2 separate regions of the Homo sapiens genome follow, and region 1 is linked to region 2. The links come from fine-mapping of genetic effects on gene expression. Tissue or cell type: whole blood. Region 2 holds a variant in brackets; the other region holds the start of a gene. Each region is shown on its reference strand, or each on the opposite one.

Region 1 (5,244 bases), not on the chromosome of region 2:
AAGTGTGTAGAGTGGAGGAGCTCTGCCAAACTCAGACTCACTGCCAACCACCCTTTCCAGCCTTGACCTGCTCTGAGTTCCTGTGCCTCTCCCAGGACAGGCTTGAAAAATCACTTTGTGAGGTTTCTTTCAGAAACCTCAAAGTGCAAACGGATTTATTTTTAATGGAACATGCTTAAAAGATTAGCAGGGCTGGCAGGTGCTCGTTAAAGGAGCCCACTCTTCGCTCTGTGTGAAGGAGGAGCATGAAAGTAAAGCCCACTCTGCTGATGGGAAGTGGCCCAGAGATCTCACAGAGTGGATGTGCCTGGGGTGTGCCCCCTCATCCCCTACTCTGTGGAGAGGTTCTAACCAATGTGCTCCAGGGGAACTTCAGCCCACCGAGGTCTGTCTACAGGCAGTGGCCCCGCAGCACTCCCCACACCTCCCCATACCTCTCTGTCCAGCTCTTCAACCAGGGTGATGTTTCCAAAAGTGGGGTCAACAGAAAAGACGCTTCTAGTGCTGGGGTCAAAGCTGATGTGGTAGGAGATGGGGTCTCCCTCAGGGTCTGTCCCATTCAGGGTGTATACGTGAGAGCCTGGAAGGAAACACAGTGGAGAGACATAGAATCTGAGACCCAACTTTTCCTAAAAGTGGCAGATGCTCAGGACCAACGATTCAGCTGTTTATAAAGTGACTATTCAACTCAGTGCCAAAGGTACTGCCCTGAACTTGGTGCTCATTGCTGGCCTCACCCCTGCTGGCTGCTTCCCTCTTTGTATGTTTATTCTTCACAGCGGGTGGTTGTGATGATCAGCCACTTTCCAGATTGTAATCTATAACACGGGTTACAGAGCAGGTGCAGGTCTGCCGTGCCTAACTGTAGTGCCTATGTTCTGCTCAGCCTGGTAATAACTCCTCTCTCAGGATCCAAGATTGAGGGGCTCCTGGGTACAGGGAAGGGGAAATGGGAGCAGCCATTAAGGCAGGAGGGGTGACCCACAGTGCACCACTGTCCCCGATGCCTGGACCTGGTTCTGCAGGGATTTCTGAGCCAGGTGCCTACTTTGCTCTGCTCTCCCTTTTCCCCGGGTTCCCACTACCCACAAAGTGAGGGAGAAGGAGTGTGAAATCTCCCCTTTCTCCTCCCCTCTCTCTGCATATCTCAGCAAGTTGGATGTTCTTAGGCCGTTTTAAAGCCTAGAGACCTGGGGCTCAGGGAGGTAAATACATTTGTTCAAGGTCACACAGCCATAAGGGGCAGCTGTAGCTGCCTGCCTCGCGGGGCGACCCTGTCTGTGGGGGGGAGCCCTGGTCTCCAGGACTGGCCAGACTTAAGTCGCCATGGCAGCAATGACCTTCTTTCCTGCCATTGCCCAGGGGAATTCGGAGAGCAAACAAGGAGCCCCCGGGCGCGCGCAGCAACTTGGGTGGTGCCTGGGGCACTTTGTGTTCTAAGTCTGCCTGCACCCCTCAGGGAGACCTATCGGGAGCAGGTGCCAGGGCTACTCACCTACAGGGGTGTCCTCTGGGAGGCTGAACAGAGCCATGTTTCCGTTGGTGCTGCCGACCCCGTTGTCGAAGAAGTGCGGGGCGAAGTTGGCCTGAGCTGGAAAAAGAACACAGAACAGACGGACACCCAGGCAAAGGACACCCAGACACCAGGAGGGAGCTTCGCACCAGCGCGGTCCCGCGTCAGGCCCAGCTACTGGGCAGGAGGGCGCTCCGCCTCCCCAACCCAAGTGCACCGAGGGACCCCACTGGGGCGCCGCCCAGAGGATGCCCCTGACCCCCACTCCGCCCCCGGTGGGCTCGGGCTTGTCAGGGACACGTAGCATGTGGGCGCTTAGAACCCAGGTAGCAATCCAACCCCTCCTTCATCAATGGGCAGATTGCACCCGCGCTCGGAGAGGGGCAGTGCCCCAGCCCAGCCAAGGTCAAGCCGCGAGTCAGGGCACTATCTCCTGCCCCACGCAGCATCGGAGCTGCCACCAAGCCTACAGCTCTGGTTCCCAGCAAGCGGAGAGCAGCGGGGGTCCGGGCGCCAAACCCTGGGGCCCTAGGATGCCAGCTCTGGAGAAGCGCCCCGGAGCTCCCCACTACTCCGCTACCCCACTCCCCACTACCGAATGGGCCAGGAAGATGGAAGGACTTCTCCGCTCCCGTCCACCAGCCCGAGTCCCACTCTGGAAGTGGTCCAGGACCATGTCCCTCTGGCCACCTGGGTGACGCCAGCGCCCATCTCCCTCGCCATCCACGCGGCCAGCGCGGCCCAGCGGCCACTCACCCAAGCAGAGGCGCAGCAGCCCCAGGGCCAGGGCGGCCCACCGGCAGCGCCTCATGTCTCCGCCGGCGCGGAGTGTCGCCTGCCGCCGCCGAGACCGGGCGCAGGGGCACGGAGCATGCCCTGGGCCCGCGGGGAGGGCAGAGACCACAATGGGGGTAGCGGCGACTGCAGCCGCGGCGGGAGGGGGCACGGGGCGGGAGCGGCGGGTGGCGTGAGGGCGCTAAGAGGATGACACGGCTCGGATCTGCTCCTGCCGGCCGCCTGACGAGACCAATTAGCGGCGCAGAGCGGAGCGACAGGCTCCCAGCCGCGGGCGGGGGCAGGAGGGCGTGACAAGAGGACTCCCCGCCCGCCACGCCCCCTTTGCCGGCGGCCCCCAGTCCTGGACAGGAGGACACCATGGGGGACAGGAGTGTCTTTCCCCCAAGTTGTCCTGAGGCTTTCCCAGGGTACTTAAGTCCTGGTGGGGCTTGGGCTTCGCAGTTTTCTTTTCTCATCAACTTCCTCTGTGACTTTCAGGGGCTTAGCTGTCTTCTCTGAGCTAAGCATTCCAGAAGAAAAGTTAGTGGAGCGGCCGAGAGGGCCTTGCCTTAGCAGTCTAAGCAGGTTCTATAAGCCGCGTGAGACCAAAGGCAAAGAGAAAGGGTGATGGATGGGCAGCAGATGGTAAGGGGTTATCAGGACCCCCTCTCTGTGATCTCAACCCATTCCTGCCCTGTTCCCCAGGCTGGACCACCTCTCCCAAAGGGTCTGATCTGTGTGGTGGGCAGCAGGGAGGACCCTCAGGTGTCCACCAGGGTGAGAGGCAGTTCTGCTCCCCATTCCCAGTCAGTGCCCAGTCTGGGACCATGAAGGGGCAGCTGACCCACTCTTCAAACCTTCCAAGGAAGAGTGAAGGGCCTGAAGGCAGAGTTAAGCCCCATCTTAGGACAGACTTGCACAGAGCTGGCCAAGATAGATCTGAACTGCCCGAGAGGCACGAGATCTCATTCCTAGAGGGTATTTACACAAAGCAAGGCACTGCTATTGGGGTCCTGGATGCTGATAACTTGAAGACACAGGTAAGCCCAGGAACCTTTTTGGCTGCTGGTAAAGCTCCTTGGGCTTCCTCGTTCTCCTGCTCTGACACTGGAGGGTGCTTGGAAATGCAGCCTGTTTTCCTTTTCCTGGTTGGGCCATTTATGGGGGTACAGGTCACTTCAAGCCCAAGCCAGGCCACTTCCCAGGATGCCCTTGGGTGGATGTGTTCTCAGATAGAGGAGATCCCTCCTCTGTGTGCTCCTGGGAGAGGTCTCCACAGCTGAGGACTCAGCATTCCCCCCCTCCCCCTGCCAGGGGCCTTTGAGGGAACAGAGCACCCCCCATCCCTTGGTCTAGCCCTACATGATCTACTGTGAGCAAGGGTCAGGGATTTGCAGAGAAGAAGGAAGATGAATCAATGGTTTTAGAATGTGCAGCAGTTTTCAGGCCTAATTGGCCGAAACCCTTGTTGAGTCTCCTTAGGCTTGGCTCTTTTGCTGAAAAGACACACTTTAAATTGCACAGATGTTCTGAATCTGCCTCCCAAAGTGCTGGGACAAAGCTAAGGCAAGTATTCTGCAAGTCCCATATAGGGATGTGGAGACTGAGTCTTGCCGTGGATTTCCCAGGAGCCAGAGGCAGAGCCAAGGTTTCCTGGAGTAGATGTCTTGGTGGGCCGAGAAAAGCCAGCTCTCCCTGGGTCCTGTTAGCCCTGCTCCTCACCAATCTAGGGCCGTTGATTTCTCTCTCCTCAGTTCCCTCAGTCAACAGCCATGCACTGGAGAGGGAAGGGGAAGGAGTAGCCTACATGCCATGTGCTGTATGTGTGCTTATGTATATTTGCCCATATTATCTTATTTGACCTGCACTGCTCTCCCAATGTGATTTTCTCTGCTTTGCAGAGGAGGGAGATTTCCTCATTGGCTGTGTACGACCAAGCAAGTGACTTATTCTCTCTGAGGTGCAGAGCTTGGATTCACATACAGTTTGGGTTGGCTCCAAAGAAGGTTCAAACTCTTTTTTTTTTTGAGCTGGAGTCTCACTCGGTCACCCAGGCTGGAGTGCAATGGCGGATCTCAGCTCACTGCAACCTCTGTCTCCTAGGTTCAAGTGATTCTCCTGCCTCAGCCTTTCAAATATTGGCATTACAGGTGCACGCCACCATGCCCAGCAAATTTTTTTTCTTTTTTTTTTTTTTGGTAGAGACGGGGTTTCACCATGTTGGCCAGGCTAGTCTTGAACTCCTGACCTCAGGTGATCCACCCATCTTGGCCTCCCAAAGTGCTGGGATTACAGGCATGAGCCACTGTGCCCGCCTGGTTCAAACCCTTTTCATGGCAGAAGAAGATGATCTTGAATCTACTGAAGCTTCAGCTTCTAGGCCTCTCACTCACACATCACACATTCCTTCCAGAGCCCCAGTTTTGTATTTTACTTTGTATTTTCTTCTTCTTTCTTTTTAGAGATAGGGTGTTATTATGTTGCCCAGGCTGGCCCTGAACTCTAGGGATCAAAAGACTCTCCTGCCTCAGCCTCCTGAGCAGCTGAGAATACAGGCAGCACCATTACATCTGACTTCTATTCTGATGTAGAAGGGTCTGAGAAAGACCCTCCACACCCCCCACTCCAACTCCTGCTGCTTCCTTCAGCTGTTTTAGGTTCAGATCTGCTAGTGTAACCAGCTGCCCAAATTTGCCTGGGACTGAGGGGTTTCCAGGGATGCAGGACTTTCAATGCTAAAACCAGCAAAGCCTAAGGTAACCTGGTATTTGGCGGTCACCCTAGATACAACCCTGTCCTCAAATCACCTAAGGACCTGGGAAAACAGCAGCTCTTTATGGTGGTTCTCACCATGGACCCTGATCTTGACCTTGCAGTATGGAAGGTCTTGGCTTGTCAAGGCTCAGTAGGACTCATCTGCCATGAGACATGGGACCTGACCCTCACTTACAGAG
Region 2 (5,483 bases):
GTGTGCTCTCATGGTGCTGAAGGGGTGGAGTGGTGGAATTTTCTATGAATTTGCTCATCTGAGTGGGCCCCGCAGGAAGAAGCCCAGCTTTCTGGTCCTAGTTCTATTGCCGGCTGACTAGCTATGCAATGGTGGCTAGTCACTTGTTTTCCTGTCCCTCCTGCTTTTCCTGGTTGTCAGATGAATGTTCTGGCTTATGCCATCTTCAAAATCTCAATGTTTTTGTCTTTGCAGGGGAATCTGACCTTGGTTCAGCCATCTGATGAACCAAGTTCATCTCTTGCATCTTCTTGGCAGTCTGTCTATAGAGCATCTTCTCAGGTTAGGCAAGGTGGAGCTATGTGATTGAGGGAGGGGCTTTTGACTTGAGTCAAAATTAGGCTGCCTGGGACAATCATGGACCATGCCTGCCATACAAGCTGCATTTTTAATGGTACCCCTTTAAATATTTGTGCTCAGATCTCAATTACCCTTGACAATGTAGAATGCAACATTGGAATGTTTGACAATGCAGGAATGCATGCAAAATATAATTTTAAAAAATATCAGCTGGGCGCAGTGGCGTATGTCTGTAATCCCAGCACTTTGGGAGGCCGAGGCGGGTGGATCACCTGAGGTCAGGAGTTCAAGACCAGCCTGACCAATATGGTGAAACCCCATCTCTACTAAAAATACAAAAAATTAGCCAGGCATGGTGGCAGACACCTGTACTCCCAACTAGTGGGGAGGCTGAGACAGGAGAATTCCTTGAACCCAGGAGGTGGAAGTTGCAGTGAGCTAAGATCACGCCACTGCACTCCAGCCTGGGTGACAGAAGAAGACTCTGTCTCAAAAAAATATATATCATATTTGGCCCAGATCTACGTTTTTTGCCTCCAACAAGTTTTCATGAGGTTAAGTTAAATGTGGGAATTTATTTCAGACAGTCTGCAAAGTGGATAGCTCACTAGAGCAAACATACAATCACCTGCAGGCTGACTGTAGTCAAAATAATCTACTGTCACCCTGAATAGGTTTTCTCACATAACATCTACAAAAACCCAGCATACCATTGTCACACCCACATGGTGCCTTCTGATATGTGACATTAGAAAACCTCAATCTCCTAAAAAAAATCATAAAATAGTTTCAGTATATATGAACTCGGCACACGTTTTTGTTCAGTGAAACTTCTTTCTTTGATGATGCCTGTTCAAATATTTGCAAATATTGAGAAAACGCCCACATAAATCATCCTCTGTTGCTGAGGCCACACAGTCTGCAGAAACCAACAGGTAAGACACAAAATACTGAACGCCACTGGAGGTCACGCAAATTCCAGGAAACCTCAGGCCATCTTAGCCTTCCTCTCCCAACCCCAATCTGTTAGTTTCTAACCGAATGTGCTAGAGAAGCCAGCCAGAGCACCATGAAAGTCAGCAAGAAGGTGAAATGGTGAGAGGAGGAGGGGCCTTTGGTTACATCTCTTTTCACCTCTCACTCTAGATGTGAAGAAACTCAGAGGGGGCTGCGGCATCCCAAGTCGGGGAGGCCATGAGGACCACTAGAAGCAGGCCTGGAGGTGTGGTCTCTGGGGCTGGGCTCTGTCGCTGCCCTCTGTACCCCAAAATGCCTCTGAGATGCCCATGTAACCTCCAGGGGAGCCCAGGAGCTTCACCTCCTGCAAATGGGGAGAGATGGACAGTAGGAGAAGAACAAGAGAGAAGCAAGAAGCAAATGGTAGGAGAAAACACAGGATAGAGGGAAGAAAGACCAAAGGCCGGTGAGCAGAGAAAAGAGGTGAGCATCCAGGGCCCAAGAGCTGCTTCAAGGTCATGGAAAGCCAGCCTGCACCTGGAAGGAAAGGTCCTTGCAGAATAGAACTTAAAGCAGGAAACAGAGAATTAAGCGTGGCAAACAAGAAACGCCCATGTGCCTGAATCTATATCATTCTAAGTCAGTGTATCAGACGCCCAGGACTCTGAAAAATCAGGGTTCCCAGACAAACCCAACACTTGGTATGAGCAGCGCTTCTTTATTATAAAACTAACATCACTGAAAGCTTTTTTTTTTTTAAAGACCAAAAATATCACATCTTAGGCAAATGAGTTGAAAATCCCTCAGAGTGACACCCTATTTTTTTTCCACCCATTTCTAAAGTCAGAGGACACCTGGTAAAGAAGCTGGTTTTTAGATAAAGAAATGCAATTCCTGGTGCACGCGGTTTCCTGGTGGTA[C/T]AGCACTGAAGTGACATCATGGAAATATTTGTACCTCAAGGTCAGTCTGCAAGGTTTCTGTGTGAAAGCATGAGTCTTAGTGGTGGGAAAGTATGTGTGTGCACCTTTGTGATCTGCTGCTGTTTACTGCTCTCTGCTTCAAAGACAAAGTTTTAATTAAATCCAGGTGGGCAGCTTGCCAGGGTTTTCCACACTTTTGGCTCACCTAGGTAGGCAGCCTAAGTGCAGGTTATACCATTTGGAAATGCCTCTGCTCCTGTCACTTGGAAGGAAATAAAACAACTGTTCCTTGGGGCGGGGGGTTGGGGGGAAGAAGCTTGTCTTCCACTCAAGGGCAAGGAATCTATGACATAAGATGCTCATTCTGGTGGTGAATATGAACAGTCTAATTTGTGTAGCATTCCTTAAGGTGCCAAAAGTAGGAAGCAGCAGACTGGGAACGTATGGAATCCTTTGTCTTAATTAAAAATATAGTGGGAGATGTGGAATTTGGCCAAGCCTCATAAATCTGCTAAAAAAGCATCAAGACTCCATCAGATAAGTTTAAATAGAACCAACTGAGCCCTCTGGAGAGTTAAACAGATTCCCCACTCATGTGGACACCCACTCTCCTGTCACTTTCCCGCACTCCGCAGGCAGCAGTGGTGCTCGTTAACCAGCAACCCTCCAATTCGCCTATGACAAGCTTATCCCCCTGGAGCACACGATTCAGACATGATAAATTTACTCCCGCTTGTAAAAATGAAACTCTCCTCAGGGCAATAAAAACGCTCTGAGCCTTTAGGAAATAAGTTCTTTATCTGATAACCTACCTTCATTAACAAAGTCTGGTCCTCTTGGTCAGGACAGCTCTTCACTGCTAGGGAGAACTGCTCTAAGGTAACTGGAAGGGAAGAAATGGAAATTGTGAATGACTTCACTTCCGCCTCAGAGCCCTTCTGATGTGAAGGAGGACACTGTGGTTATAACAGACGTAAACAGCATGCTGTCCGTCCTTCCTTGGTGACATGGCAGAGCTCCCCAACTGTCCCCTGCATGGGTCAGGGGCCCCCGTACAGTGACTTCTCCACCCCATCAGACAGAGTCATTACAGTAGAGTACAAGGCCATTCCCATCAGCAAAGCTCCTCCCTAAACTGCCAGGAGGTCCTGGGTTCAGCTTCCTTTTGGGTCATCTTGTCCCCAGAGATGACACTCTATCTCCATTTCCTGGGACCTTCATTGAGAAGACTCCACCTGCCTTTGTAAATTTGACAGTGCTAATTTAAAAAATCTCAATCTTCCATCATGATTTCCATGGCTTTAACTCTTCTCTTGGTGTATGGCCCCAAGTGTTGACTCAAACCCCACAAACTCCCCCAAATATATAAAGTCGTCTTTCTCCAACCAACCTTCTCAAGGAGAATAGGGAAGAGAAACCCAAGAAGATTTACGAGAAAAAAAAAAAGTTTTAGTAATCCATTGAAATTGGCCATGAAAGCTCTAGGAATATTAATCTAGAAAATTTACAAAATTACATTCCCCTTCTCATATTTATGGCCAGGTTCTCATCAAAGGCTCACTTATGTGGTGACCAATTTTTATTTTGGTGTAAGTCACAGACTGCCCTCCTGTAGGCTGTGTTGACTACATTGTTTCATGCTTGAAAATGCTCCCACAATTCTCTGCCACCCTCAGATTTAAAACCACTTATTTGACACGCATTAAGGCTTTTACTAAGTTAACCCAACTAGTTTAGCCTTTGATTGCTATACTCAAAGCTGCGTTCACTCTTTACCCTCTATGACCTTTCATTGCTCTCTGCTGGGAAGAGTTCTGCCTCTTGTCTTTGAGTAGAGCAAAACTCAGTCCTCCAACTGAACATCCCAAGCCCACCCATCCAGCCAATAAAGACATTGATTGCCCTCTGGTCCCATCCCAACTCCCGCAGATCCCACAAAGGTGGGCAGAGCTAAACTCAGCCTCAAGGCTGAGGGACAGTCTGATTCCAATGATTTGACCTCAAGCATGCCTGGATGTCATGTCTACAAATACAGATATTTTAAAGAGAACTATATCAGCAATGATGAATTTTCATCAAGAAAATATTGTCTGGGTAGGTTGTTTGTAGTTTTCAATGTTACTCTAAAATAGAATTCCTTAGACTGCTTTCATCTCTGACTAAATTACTCCATGCCATCTTGACTGCTATCAGTTGTATCTGGTGCTGATTATTTCTTCCAAGTTTAAATTTTGCTCTATCCAGTCAAGACATACTTGGGATCCATAGAGAGATCAATGTTGCCTTCCACATGCTCTCCAATGCATATACCCACCCAGTCTTCAATTGGCAGAAACCAGTGTTAATTACATAGAATCATCAATTTAATCTTTTTTAAAAATTAACTTTGCCTATAAAAGTGGCTCAGCAGAAACTTGTACATTGAGATAAGGGCCCAAGCTGTGTTAAGTTTACACGAATGCTTTTGCTGTCACTCATTCAGAATACACCTGCCTGGGAAAGACCCTGGAGGCAAGACCTCTCTCCCTCAACTCCGTCCTCAGTTTTGGACTTTTGCTGTGATCTGATTTGGTGTGATAACATATTGATCTCTGACTACTGTCTGAGGATGGCTAAAGAATAATCTACAAATTCAGGTGCTAGGTTTTCTTTAGATCACCTTTTTAAGGTGGCTATTTTATTTGGTAAAGGTTTATGCTGTAACTTAGAATCTTACTTAGTGCAGGTCAGGGAAATTGAAACACTTGCTTCCTTAGAGAGCTACTGGATTCTCACTGACAGCTCTCTCCTCTCTGTGGTGACCCTGTGTTCATACTTCTCACTGCCTGTGCACTGGACTCCACTATGATACTTTTCGTTATCATAGACATAGCACCCACTTCAAGTTACCTTGAACTCTGTACATCCAATCCAAACCAGTCAACTTCCATACCAAGCCAGCCCTTTCCAACTTTTTCCCATTTCTGTGGGACTATCATCCTCCAGCCACCAGGCCACTGAGCCTGATTCTTTGATTTCTCCCTCAGGACCCCATGCCTGCTGACTCTTGTACGATGATGTCCCTTGGATGCACCACTTTCCCACAGTAGTGCTGCCACTTTGATTTCTGGAGAACTTCTCGCTCTTTCCCAGCCTCCATGCCCACTGCTGCCACCACTCTGAGCCTGGCCCTGCTGGAGCCCTATGCCTATGGCCTGCATTCCTCCTCACCACACCAGGCCTAGCCCCTCTTCCCCGTGCAAACCACCCTGATGGCTCCTGACTCTC

The links.
Region 1: CDHR1 starts here. The variant in region 2 is fine-mapped to the expression of CDHR1 in whole blood (TOPMed, PIP 0.96).

What each region holds. Positions count from the first base shown.
Region 1 is chr10:84,191,841-84,197,084 of GRCh38, reverse strand. It overlaps CDHR1 (cadherin related family member 1), which reads right to left and starts at 2,548. Exons shown (of 17, transcript NM_033100.4): 1 at 2,270-2,548; 2 at 1,496-1,591; 3 at 435-580. The coding sequence starts at 2,324. RefSeq lists silencers at 2,333-2,452, 2,523-2,652.
Region 2 is chr2:111,046,834-111,052,316 of GRCh38, reverse strand. ACOXL (acyl-CoA oxidase like) reads right to left here. Exons shown (of 18, transcript NM_001142807.4): 16 at 3,029-3,099. LOC124907866 (a long non-coding RNA gene) reads left to right here and starts at 2,140. Exons shown (of 2, transcript XR_007087182.1): 1 at 2,140-2,256. RefSeq lists a silencer at 2,171-2,465 and an enhancer at 2,171-2,465. The variant C/T (reference allele first, on the strand shown) is at 2,217.